Linked DNA regions of Homo sapiens. The protein of the gene in region 1 purifies or fractionates together with the protein of each later gene. This does not show direct contact. Each region holds a gene or a part of one and is shown on either strand. Other genes may lie near its edges.

Region 1 (4,903 bases):
ACTGCTTGGCCAACATGGTGAAACCCCGTCTCTACTAAAAATAGAAAAAAATTAGCTGGATGTGGTGTCATGCACTTGTAATCCCAGCTACTCGGGAGGCTGAAGCAGGAGAATCGCATGAACCCAGGAGGCGGCGGTTGCAGTGAGCTGAGACTGCCCTACTGCACTCCAGCCTGAGTGATAGAGTGAGACTCTGCTAAAAAAAAAAAAAAAAAAAAAAAGTGCCAAAGCTTGGAAACAATCAAGATGTCCTTCAGTAGGTGAATGGATAAATAAATTGTGACACATTCAGACAATGGAATATTATTCGGTACTAAAAATAAGTGAGTTATCAAGCCATGGAAAGACATGGAGGAAATTTAAATGTATATTACTAACTCAAAGAAACCAGTCTGAAAAGGATACATACTGTATAATTCCAACTAAGCACAACTGGGGATGGGAGAAAGATCAGTGGTTGCCAGGGGTTAGCAGGGATGGGGAGATGAGCAGACAGAGCAAAGAGGATTCTTAGGGCAGCGAAACCACTGTGTATGATAATATAGAGATGGCCAGGCACAGTGGCTCATGCCTGTAATCCCCAGCACTTTGGGGAGCTGGGACAGGTGGATCGCTTGAGCCCAGGAGTTTGAGACCAGCCTGGGCAACATGGCAAAACTTGGTCTCTATTAAATATACAGAAAAATCAGCCAGTTGTGGTGGTGCTCGCCTGTAGCCCCAGCTACTTGGGAGGCTGAGTTGGAGGATTACTGGAGCCCAGGAAGTTGAGGCTGCAGTGAGTTATGATCATGCCACTGCACTCCAGCCTGGGCAGCAGAGTAAGACCCTGCCTCAAAACAAACAAACAAACAAACAAAAACAAAAAAAAGATAACATAATGATGGATATATGTCAATATAAATGTGTCCAAACCAACAGACTCTCTAACACCAAGAGTGAACCCTAATGTATACTATGAACTCTGAATGATAATAATGTGTCAATGTAGGTTCATCAATTATAACAAATAAACCACTCTGGTGAGGATATTGATAATTGGGGAGGCAGTGCCTGCATGGGGGCAGAGAATATATGAAAATCTCTGTACCTTCTGCTTAATTTTGTTGTGAACCTAAAACTGCTTTAAAAATAAAGTCTATTTGCAAAATAAAAAACAAAATCTACTTGTATCCCTGGGCATGGTGGCACATGCCTGTAATCCCAGCTACTTGGGAGGCTGAGGCACAAGAATCACTTGAGCCCAGGAGGCAGAGGTTGCAGTGAGCTGAGATCATGCCACTGCACTCCAGCCTGGGCGACAGAGCAAGACTCTGCCTCAAAAAAAAAATCTACTTGTAAAAAAATGTTTTTAAAAATAAAGACATACTGTTAATATTTGTTTCCAGAAAAAAAGAAAAGAATAAAGGGATGAAAGATATTCCTTTCCCCACTCCCCTTTAGAAAAAAAAAAATTACACTCAGCCCCGTCCTGCCTCATGCTTTATTTTCCATAGAGCTTGTTTCCATCCATACCTCCTCTGGTCTCATCCATGCTGATTCCAGGGTCCAGGTTCTCAGGTCTGAGGTCCATAATGTCAGGTGAAGCCCTGCCCATACCATTGCCTAGTGGCCAACACCCCCGCCCACCACAGCCTGATGAAGCCTCTGTCAACCAGGGTTTCTTATTCCCTGAAAGAAGAAATTCAAAGATGAAATGCACCCACTTCCATATCCTCAGTCTCCTCCCACTCATATCAACATGCTAAAAGGGACCCTCATCTATCTGGACTGGAGAAGGGGACTATCTGCATTGGGGTGGGGGGAGGTTTGGGGGATGACTGCTCTTTGAATGAATGGTATCAAAGTGAAGAGATTCTGGATTTTGTAGAGTCCTGCCCTAAGGAACAACTGTCTACCACTATCCTACCATCACTCATCTTTCACTGGCATCTCCCTACCCCAGACCCAACCCCTCTTTTCAGTCTCCATCTCATAAGTCAGCCCCCTTAGTCCACCTGCTCACTGATTCCTGACTCCACCCAGTGATTCTCCATGTTCTGTCTTCTCAGTCACCTCAAATGCTCTATGCCCCAAAAGGCTCCCCATTGTCAGCCACCACGGGGGCAAAAGGGACTAATTTCATTCCATACACCTTTCCCAAGCCCTTTCTCCCAAACTCCTTCCCTCATCACCCTTAACCCACAACTCACAACAGAGAATCTCGTATCCCTGAGGGCACACAGTGAGGCTGCCTCACTCCTCTTCCATGCTAAGGATTTGCAGCAGGATATTGTACACTTCATGTTCCATGTAACCCTGTAGATGTCAGGAAAGGAAGAAAAGGAGATGAAGAACAGAAAATGGAGAGAGAGAGGTGAGGGAGAGGTTCTGTGGTACAGTGGAAGGCTATTTATTTACTATATACCTTCACTTATAGTATTTAACTTCTCCATGGCTTTTTCCCTATCTTCACAGGGAAGATAATGATGTCTACTTTTCAGGATTGCTCTGAGGATTACAACCATGAATATGAAGCAAAGCACCAGGTACACAATAGGTGTTCATTCCATTCTTTGTAGTTATTATTCCTAACAAGGGAGCAAGACACCTACCTCTTCTTCCTTGTTTAGGACTAAGTGGCTCCAGGAGGAGACTGAGAAAGGGTATTGGGGACAGGAAAAGTCCTTACTATAGGCCAGAGAATTGAAACAGAGGGGGAAACACCTCTCCTTCTCACATTCATGCACAACCTCTCTTGATCTACCAAATGAGATCAGAGACCTAGCACTGGATCCAGCTTTCCGAGAAACAGCAAGTGTGTACAGGGACCCTGGAGAAGAGAGAGGGACCCTAAATGCAATACCCTATACTCAGCTTTATGTCTATACCTCCCTCAAAACTCCACCATGCTCACCCGAGCAGCATTCAGTAGATGATTCCTGTAGGTGGAGATGATCTCTTCATGGTTCTTCTGGGAATCCTGGGAATGAACATCAATGGGAAGTCACATGTCCACCCTCAGTCACCCAAGCATGAGGAGCAACACAATGAAGTGGTCAGCAGTACCAGGTGGGCTCGTTGGCCCATCACTGGCCCATCCTGGACCACTGCCTAGCCAGGCCTCTGTAATTCCTAGAATGTCTCCCTCAGTAATTCCTAGAATGTCTCCCACATATACATCACTTCCACTGCTGACCTTCTTCTCCAGCACCATCCCTGACAGCCAAAACATACCTGCAGCTGCAGGGCAAGGCGAGCATTTTCTCCCCGAATTGCTAGAACCTCTTCTGAAAGCTGCTCCAGCTTCTTCAACAACTCCTTGATCTGAGGCCAAGAGGAAAGAGGCAACCAATGAGGCTCCAAGTCATTTCTCCCACAAGGGTCAAGGTCAGCTTCCTTTTACTGAGTATTTAATATGTGCCAATTTTATACAAATTGTCTCATTTAACACTCAAAACAGCTTTTCTTCTGTGTGGTGTTCACTAAAAGTAGGAATAACAACGTAAAAGCTAATTAAGGTCACAAACTTCGGTGAAACCCTTAAAAGTCCAAATCTTTTTGATATTGTGAACTATACCCCTTCCAGTTTAGTTTCTTCTGGACTTTCCTTACTTGTCAGTTACCTTTTAAAATTTGCACACATTATGATTAAAAGTGGGCCTCTACTGTGATGATTCCTATTTCCTCTCATGTTTTAAAGTGCAAACTAACATTTAAGTGAACATTAGCATCAAGTAGTGCAGACATTTGTATGCATTTCCTTGATTCAATTTGTGACCTTACCAGTTCTGAATTGGAATTGCCCCATTTCGTAGATAAAGGAAACTAACTATATTGCTGCACTTTTAAGTTTTCAAAACAGTGTTTAAAAATTGCATTGTTTTTATTTTTTTAAAACTCAGTTTAAAAAGACTAAAATGTTCTTTCAAAAGAGGCATCTAAATGTGTTCCTAATTTTGTATATGGGCTTAGGTTTTGTAACCAATTAAAAAAAAAGCTGCTATCCAATATGATAAAACATTGAAAACTTAAAAAAATTTAAAAAAAAAACAGCTTTTCTTCCGGGAGGAACAATACTTCTCTGAAGGAAGTTTGTTTTTTTGTTTTTTTTTGTTTGTTTGTTTTTTAGACTGAGTCTTGCTCTGTCACCCAGGCTAGAGTGCAGTGACACCATCTGCTCACTGCAACATCTGCCTCCAGGTTCAAGTGATTCTCCTGCCTCAGCCTCCCAAGAAGCTGGGATTACAGGCATGCGCCACCACACTCAGATAATTTTTGTATTTTTAGTAGAGGCGGGGTTTCACTACGTTGGCCAGGCTGGTCTCGAACTCCTGACCTCAGGTGATCCGCCCACCTCAGCCTCCTAAAGTGCTGGGATTACAGGTGTGAGCCACTGCGCCCAGCCTGTTTTGTGTTTGGAGGCAGGGTCTCACCTGCCACCCAGGCTGGAGTGCAGTGATGTGATCTCAGCTCACTGCAACCTCTAAATCCTGGGCTCAAGCCAACCTCAGCCTCCTGAGTAGCACAGGAACAGGCACATGCCACCATACTCAGCTAATTTTTGTATTTTTTTGTAGAGTTGGGGTTTTGCCATGTTGTCCAGGCTGGTCTCAAACTCGTGGGCTCAGGCGATCCATCCACCTTGGCCTCCCAAAGTGCTGGGATTACAGGCATGAGCCACTGTGCTCCGCCTGAGGGAAGTATTATAATCTACGTTTTGTAGATAAAGAGACTAAATTAAGTAATTTGTCAAAATCACACAGCTAATAAGTGATGAAATCATGATTTGAACCACAATCTCTTTGACTCCTTGGCCGATGCTCTTAACTTGGTATCAGATCCTAACCTACTCCTGGCTACTGACCACTAAGGGAAATGGAGATGAGTCCTTATGGCTTATTGAGGCAGAGGCACAAATGCAGTT
Region 2 (5,190 bases), on another chromosome or scaffold:
CATGGTCTTCGAGCTCCTGCAGCTGGGGGCTGGGGCTGGGGGACTGGGGGTTTGAAAATCATAATAGCATTCATTAAAAATGATCACAATAGCATTTATTAAGCACTTGCTGTGTGCTAGACATTGTGCCACGGACATCTTGTATATTATCTCATTTCATCCTCAAAATCTCCTGATGTTCTCTTAGAAAAGAGGGGACTTTGGCTTAGCAGGGTTGATTCATCCATGGTCACACAGCTAGTAAGTGGCAGAGCCAGAACTGGAACATAGGCGTTGGATATCCAAACCTATGTGTTTAACCCTTAGGATTCTCTGGTACTTGGGGGAGTAGGTGGTGCCAATGAAGCCACCTTAAGCAAGTTGCCCGGGTGCTCACTGCAGGATGGGCAGGCAGGAAGGCAGACTGGTGAGCCCCAGCTTACAGCTGCACTGCTGCCCACAGCGTGCCAAGTTGGAGGCCGCCATTGCCGAGGCTGAGGAGCGTGGGGAGCTGGCGCTCAAGGATGCTCGTGCCAAGCAGGAGGAGCTGGAAGCCGCCCTGCAGCGGGGCAAGCAGGATATGGCACGGCAGCTGCGTGAGTACCAGGAACTCATGAGCGTGAAGCTGGCCCTGGACATCGAGATCGCCACCTACCGCAAGCTGCTGGAGGGCGAGGAGAGCCGGTGAGGACAAGGAACCTGGAAAGGGGATGCTTCTAGGGCTCCGTGGGGTTTGGGGCTTGACATTCATCCATTTACAAGCATTTCCTGTATGCCCCTCCTCTGCAGGGCACTGGGTGTGGGGATGCAGGGAACACAGAGCTGATGCTTGCCTCTTTGCCTTCAATGAGATGACCTTCTAGAAGGAAAGACCATGGAGTGTGAAGCTCAGTGGGCAGGTTGAAATGATAACAGTCCCTTTGTGTGTGCGGCTTCTTAGGGTTATCATATTTGATCCTCAGCACACATTCAGGTAGTCAGGTCAGAGACGATTGATTCCTTAGTCTCCAGAGGGGAAAGCTGTGGTTGAGTTTCATTAATTGAGGGAATAGGGCCAGAGTGCAGTCAGGGTGTGCTGATTCCTGCTCCAAGGATCTTCCAGGACGCCAGGCTGCTTCTCACTACAGAACTAAGTGCTACATCATGTGGGGCTAACTGACTGTGGTGGAGGGGGATCGTTTTGTTTGTCCCCAGAGATATTTGCAGACTCACTTGCAGTCAGAGAGGAGGCTGGAATGGGGGAGTCTGATAGCACATTCTTCATGAACCGCATGCCACCTCTGTCTATGCAGCTGGGCCTTCATGGGCATATTGTTGGGTTCGAACTCAACCTCTTCATTCTTGGCTTGTTATAAGACACCATGGCAACAGAGAATACGTAGGACATGTTTCTGCCCTCAGGGAGGTTGCAGAGGGTGGAGGAGACAAAACATCCACAGAGGAAACCCCCAGAGACCAGTAACTTACATTTGTAAAATGCTGAGTGTATACAAGAACTTATTCTTTTCTGAGTATTATTCCTAAGGGGCCAGAGAGAGACATGACGGAGGATGAATGGAGCAGCAGGGAAGGGAATGGGGAGTGAAGGGGTGCTAGGGCCGAGGGCCTGGGTGCTGGGAGGAGAAGAGGAGACACAGGGCCGCAGGGTATGAGTAGGAGGCGGAGAGGAGGAGGAAGGGGCTTTGCCCCTGCTGCTGACCCGCCTTCTCCCTGGGTTAGCACCCAGTCTTCTTTGTGGGAAGAAGAATTAACACCAAAAGTCTCTGGGAACACAGAAGCTGATCTGGGCACAGGGAGCTCCAGCCAAGATGCCTCTCTCTGCTTTCGCCTCTCCCACAGGCACAGGGCCCCCAAATTCTCTACAACCCATACCCTGGGCCTTCTGTTGTCATAGAAGTCAGAGTTGGGGGACTCTTAGAGTGGTACCTGATCTGGCTTCCTCCCATGGGAAGAAAAGGGGACTGAAGCTCAGAAATGGTCAGTAGTGTGCCCAAGGTCACACAGCACGCAGAGACATCCTCTTCTGAAAGCTTAATCTCAGTCTGAGCTGCTGTAACCAGGCTTAGATCCGGGTACTCTGAGAGGATATGGTTCCCCCAACCCTGGGGGGATATGGAGGTAGATACCTTGCTTTTATCTCTTAACTTATCAGAGTTGTGGTCCAGAAACTCATTCAAACTGGGAGGCCTACTTTAAGAATACAAAGTTACCAAAAAAACCCCACTTACTTAGAATGAGAAAAGTCACACAGATCACTAGAGCCTTGGACATTCAGGCCTCTTCCGTCTGAGTTCCTTAGGCATCGTACCAGAAATTCTTCGAGTTGCTGCCTGACTGCAACCTGGCTCCCTCTCCCCACCCACAAGTGCCAGCAACTCCCAGCACCAGCAGGGGCCATTTAAGCAAGCCCCCTGGAAGCTTTCAGCAAACCTCTCTCTTTCCCTCAGCCTTTGCTCTGCCTGCTTCCTGGGCTTGGGGCCGCAGAGGCCAGCGAGGCTCCCTTCATTCCCTCCACCAAAGCGAGGTCTTCCCTGCCCCCACAGAGCAAACTGATCCCCAAGGCCAAGGCCTTGGTGACAATGGGACTGTGAGTCACAAAACAAACATAGCCAGCTGTCCCGAATGGATTTTTAATTTCTACTGCAAGACCTGTTTCAGCCCCACTGGCTGCTTAAAGCCACCCCCACTCCCTGCTCCTTCCTTAGTCCTGGCTGGAGCCCCATTCAATCAGTCAACGATTCACGAATTATTTTGACATATATTAAGCAATGACTTCTCCAGGCCTCATACTGGGGATAAAAGTATCAATAGGCCACAGACACCTTTAGGATTTTATGATACGGTGAGGAAAGGCAGCCATCTACATAAATAACACATACAGCTACCATTCACCGAATCCCAGGTGCTCAGGGCTTTAGACAGATTATGTCATTTAACCCTCACAGGCCCATGAATTTGGTCCTGTAGTTGGGCCCAAGGCATAGGTGGGAAATGGAGGCCCTGAGACATTGCCTGGGGTCAGGTGGCCAGTGGATAGAAGGGCCAAGGTGAACACTCCCTTCCTGCATGCCTCCTCGCTCCTTTTACAAGGCTGAAGGCAGGCTGGAAGTGTGGGGCAAGAAGGAAAAATCAATGATCCTGCTTGGGGCCTGGAAGGAGAGAGGGCTGAGAGCGCTTCCCTCCCACGCTAGGAAAGAGCCGTCCTCACTGTCTGTCCTCTGCCCCCAGGTTGGCTGGAGATGGAGTGGGAGCCGTGAATATCTGTAAGTCCTTGGCTGCGGCCCATGGGAAGCATCCCTTGTGCTGTTTAGATGGGGCTGGGTCTAGAGAATGGCAGACTGGCCCAGGGCCCTGCTGGAGGGGCCAGGAGACTCCTTCCTTTCTACAGGGATTGACAGGTCCCCTGGAGCACATACTGCCAGGCTCAATGGCCTGGGAAGCACTACAAGAGGGCAGGGTGGGGCCAGGAGCACCTGGGGAGCAGCCCTACCCCTGTCAGATGCTCCTTCTGGGTTGGCCCATGGAGGGGGGCAGGGGTGAGGGAGAGGGGCAGCTGGGGCAGGAGGGTGGGGTGCAGTGAAGGGATGGGGTCCCTGGTAGGGAGCCTCACGCTGAAGAGAGCCCTCCTCTTTTCTCTCCCAGCTGTGATGAATTCCACTGGTGGCAGTAGCAGTGGCGGTGGCATTGGGCTGACCCTCGGGGGAACCATGGGCAGCAATGCCCTGAGCTTCTCCAGCAGTGCGGGTCCTGGGCTCCTGAAGGCTTATTCCATCCGGACCGCATCCGCCAGTCGCAGGAGTGCCCGCGACTGAGCCGCCTCCCACCACTCCACTCCTCCAGCCACCACCCACAATCACAAGAAGATTCCCACCCCTGCCTCCCATGCCTGGTCCCAAGACAGTGAGACAGTCTGGAAAGTGATGTCAGAATAGCTTCCAATAAAGCAGCCTCATTCTGAGGCCTGAGTGATCCACGTGCCTGGTATCCTGGCTTCATGAGGCTGGGCAGGGGAAAAGACGGGACTAGAGAAGGCAGGGTCTCCCTGGTGACTAGGAAGCCTTTTGTGCAGGAGACTGAGAAGGCACATGGTGGGATGGGGTGCTGCTCTAAGGAGCAGGACGCTTACCTAGGGTGAGCCTTGGCCTCCAGGTCTGGGGCTGATCCCAAAGATTCTCCTGAGGAAGCCCAGAAGAGCCACGGGGAAATGCAGGCTCTGCCAGCAATTGGGCCTTGGAGGGCTGCCCTGCTAAGGGGGTGGAAAGGCTGTTTGCCTCCCTCCCCCCATGCCCAGAGCTGCCAGAGCACATTCCTTTTGTGAGGAGGCCACAGACGTTCAGCTGCCCCAGCTTCCAGTTTCGGGTGGCCCAGCCAACTTTCATGCCAGCCGTCCTCAGCCCTTCCTGGTGCTGGGTCTGCCAGGCTCATGGTCAGCCAGGCCTGGGGCCCTGGAGAGGTCCTCTGCATCTTGAATTCTGTGGAGGTAGTGGTTGTGGGGGGGAGGTGTGTGTGTGCATGGGAGGAGGGTCCTAGAGTCTAGATCCCCGGTAACAGGTCTGTGCCTAGGACCTTAGTGGAGGGATGGGTTTGTATCTGGATCCATGGGAGTGGGGAAGGACATCTGTGTTAAGTCAGTGCTTGATGGGGGCTTCTATGTCAGAGTCCCCGACACACAGGTCTGTGTGTCTGTGAGTGTGGCAGGTGTTCTGTGGCAGGGCCTATGCATGGGGAAATGTGTCCCTGATGGGCAGCAGCACATATGATGGGTACTGTGGAGCCACAGGGAGGTCTCTGTGTCTGGGACCCCAGGGGTGATGGTGGTGGTGTGGATGGGGGAGCTATGTGGGATGTGTTGGCTTCTGGGAGGAAGTCTGTATATTTGACCCTATGGTCAGGGAACTTTCAAATGCTGAGGTGGGGGCTGGGGTGGAGAGTGGAAAAAGTGGACCAGCAGCCACAGTGATGGGGTTCCCACCCAAGGTGTCAGGAGATCCAGGCCCTCTCCCTCCCGACTAAGAAGACCAAGTGGGCAAGAGGAAGGAGAGACTCTCAGGGCACAATGCATATGATCAGGAGCTTTACTGGAAATGCTGAGACAAGCACAGGGGAGAGGGAGGGAGCCAGGCAGCCAGGCAGGAGAGGTGGCCTGTCCTGCACGTGTATTAGAAGACATTGGATTAGAAGGCACAGCAAGTCCACACCAAGGGGCTCCAG

What was found. The genes of interacting proteins can lie anywhere in the genome.
Region 2: the proteins of ANKRD35 (region 1) and KRT7 purify together in Homo sapiens (affinity purification with mass spectrometry, with the first as the bait; one large-scale study listed by BioGRID). This does not show direct contact.

The regions. Positions count from the first base shown.
Region 1 is NC_000001.11:145,865,098-145,870,000, forward strand, and holds the end of ANKRD35 (ankyrin repeat domain-containing protein 35), read right to left. Parts: intron 3,304-4,903; coding exon 3,214-3,303; intron 2,960-3,213; coding exon 2,894-2,959; intron 2,296-2,893; coding exon 2,233-2,295; 3' UTR 2,190-2,232; intron 1,669-2,189; 3' UTR 1,467-1,668; downstream 1-1,466.
Region 2 is NC_000012.12:52,244,970-52,250,159, forward strand, and holds the end of KRT7 (keratin, type II cytoskeletal 7), read left to right. Parts: intron 1-73; exon of another isoform or gene 74-442; coding exon 443-663; exon of another isoform or gene 664-1,499; intron 1,500-2,207; exon of another isoform or gene 2,208-2,479; intron 2,480-3,207; coding exon 3,208-3,242; intron 3,243-3,621; coding exon 3,622-3,791; 3' UTR 3,792-3,952; downstream 3,953-5,190.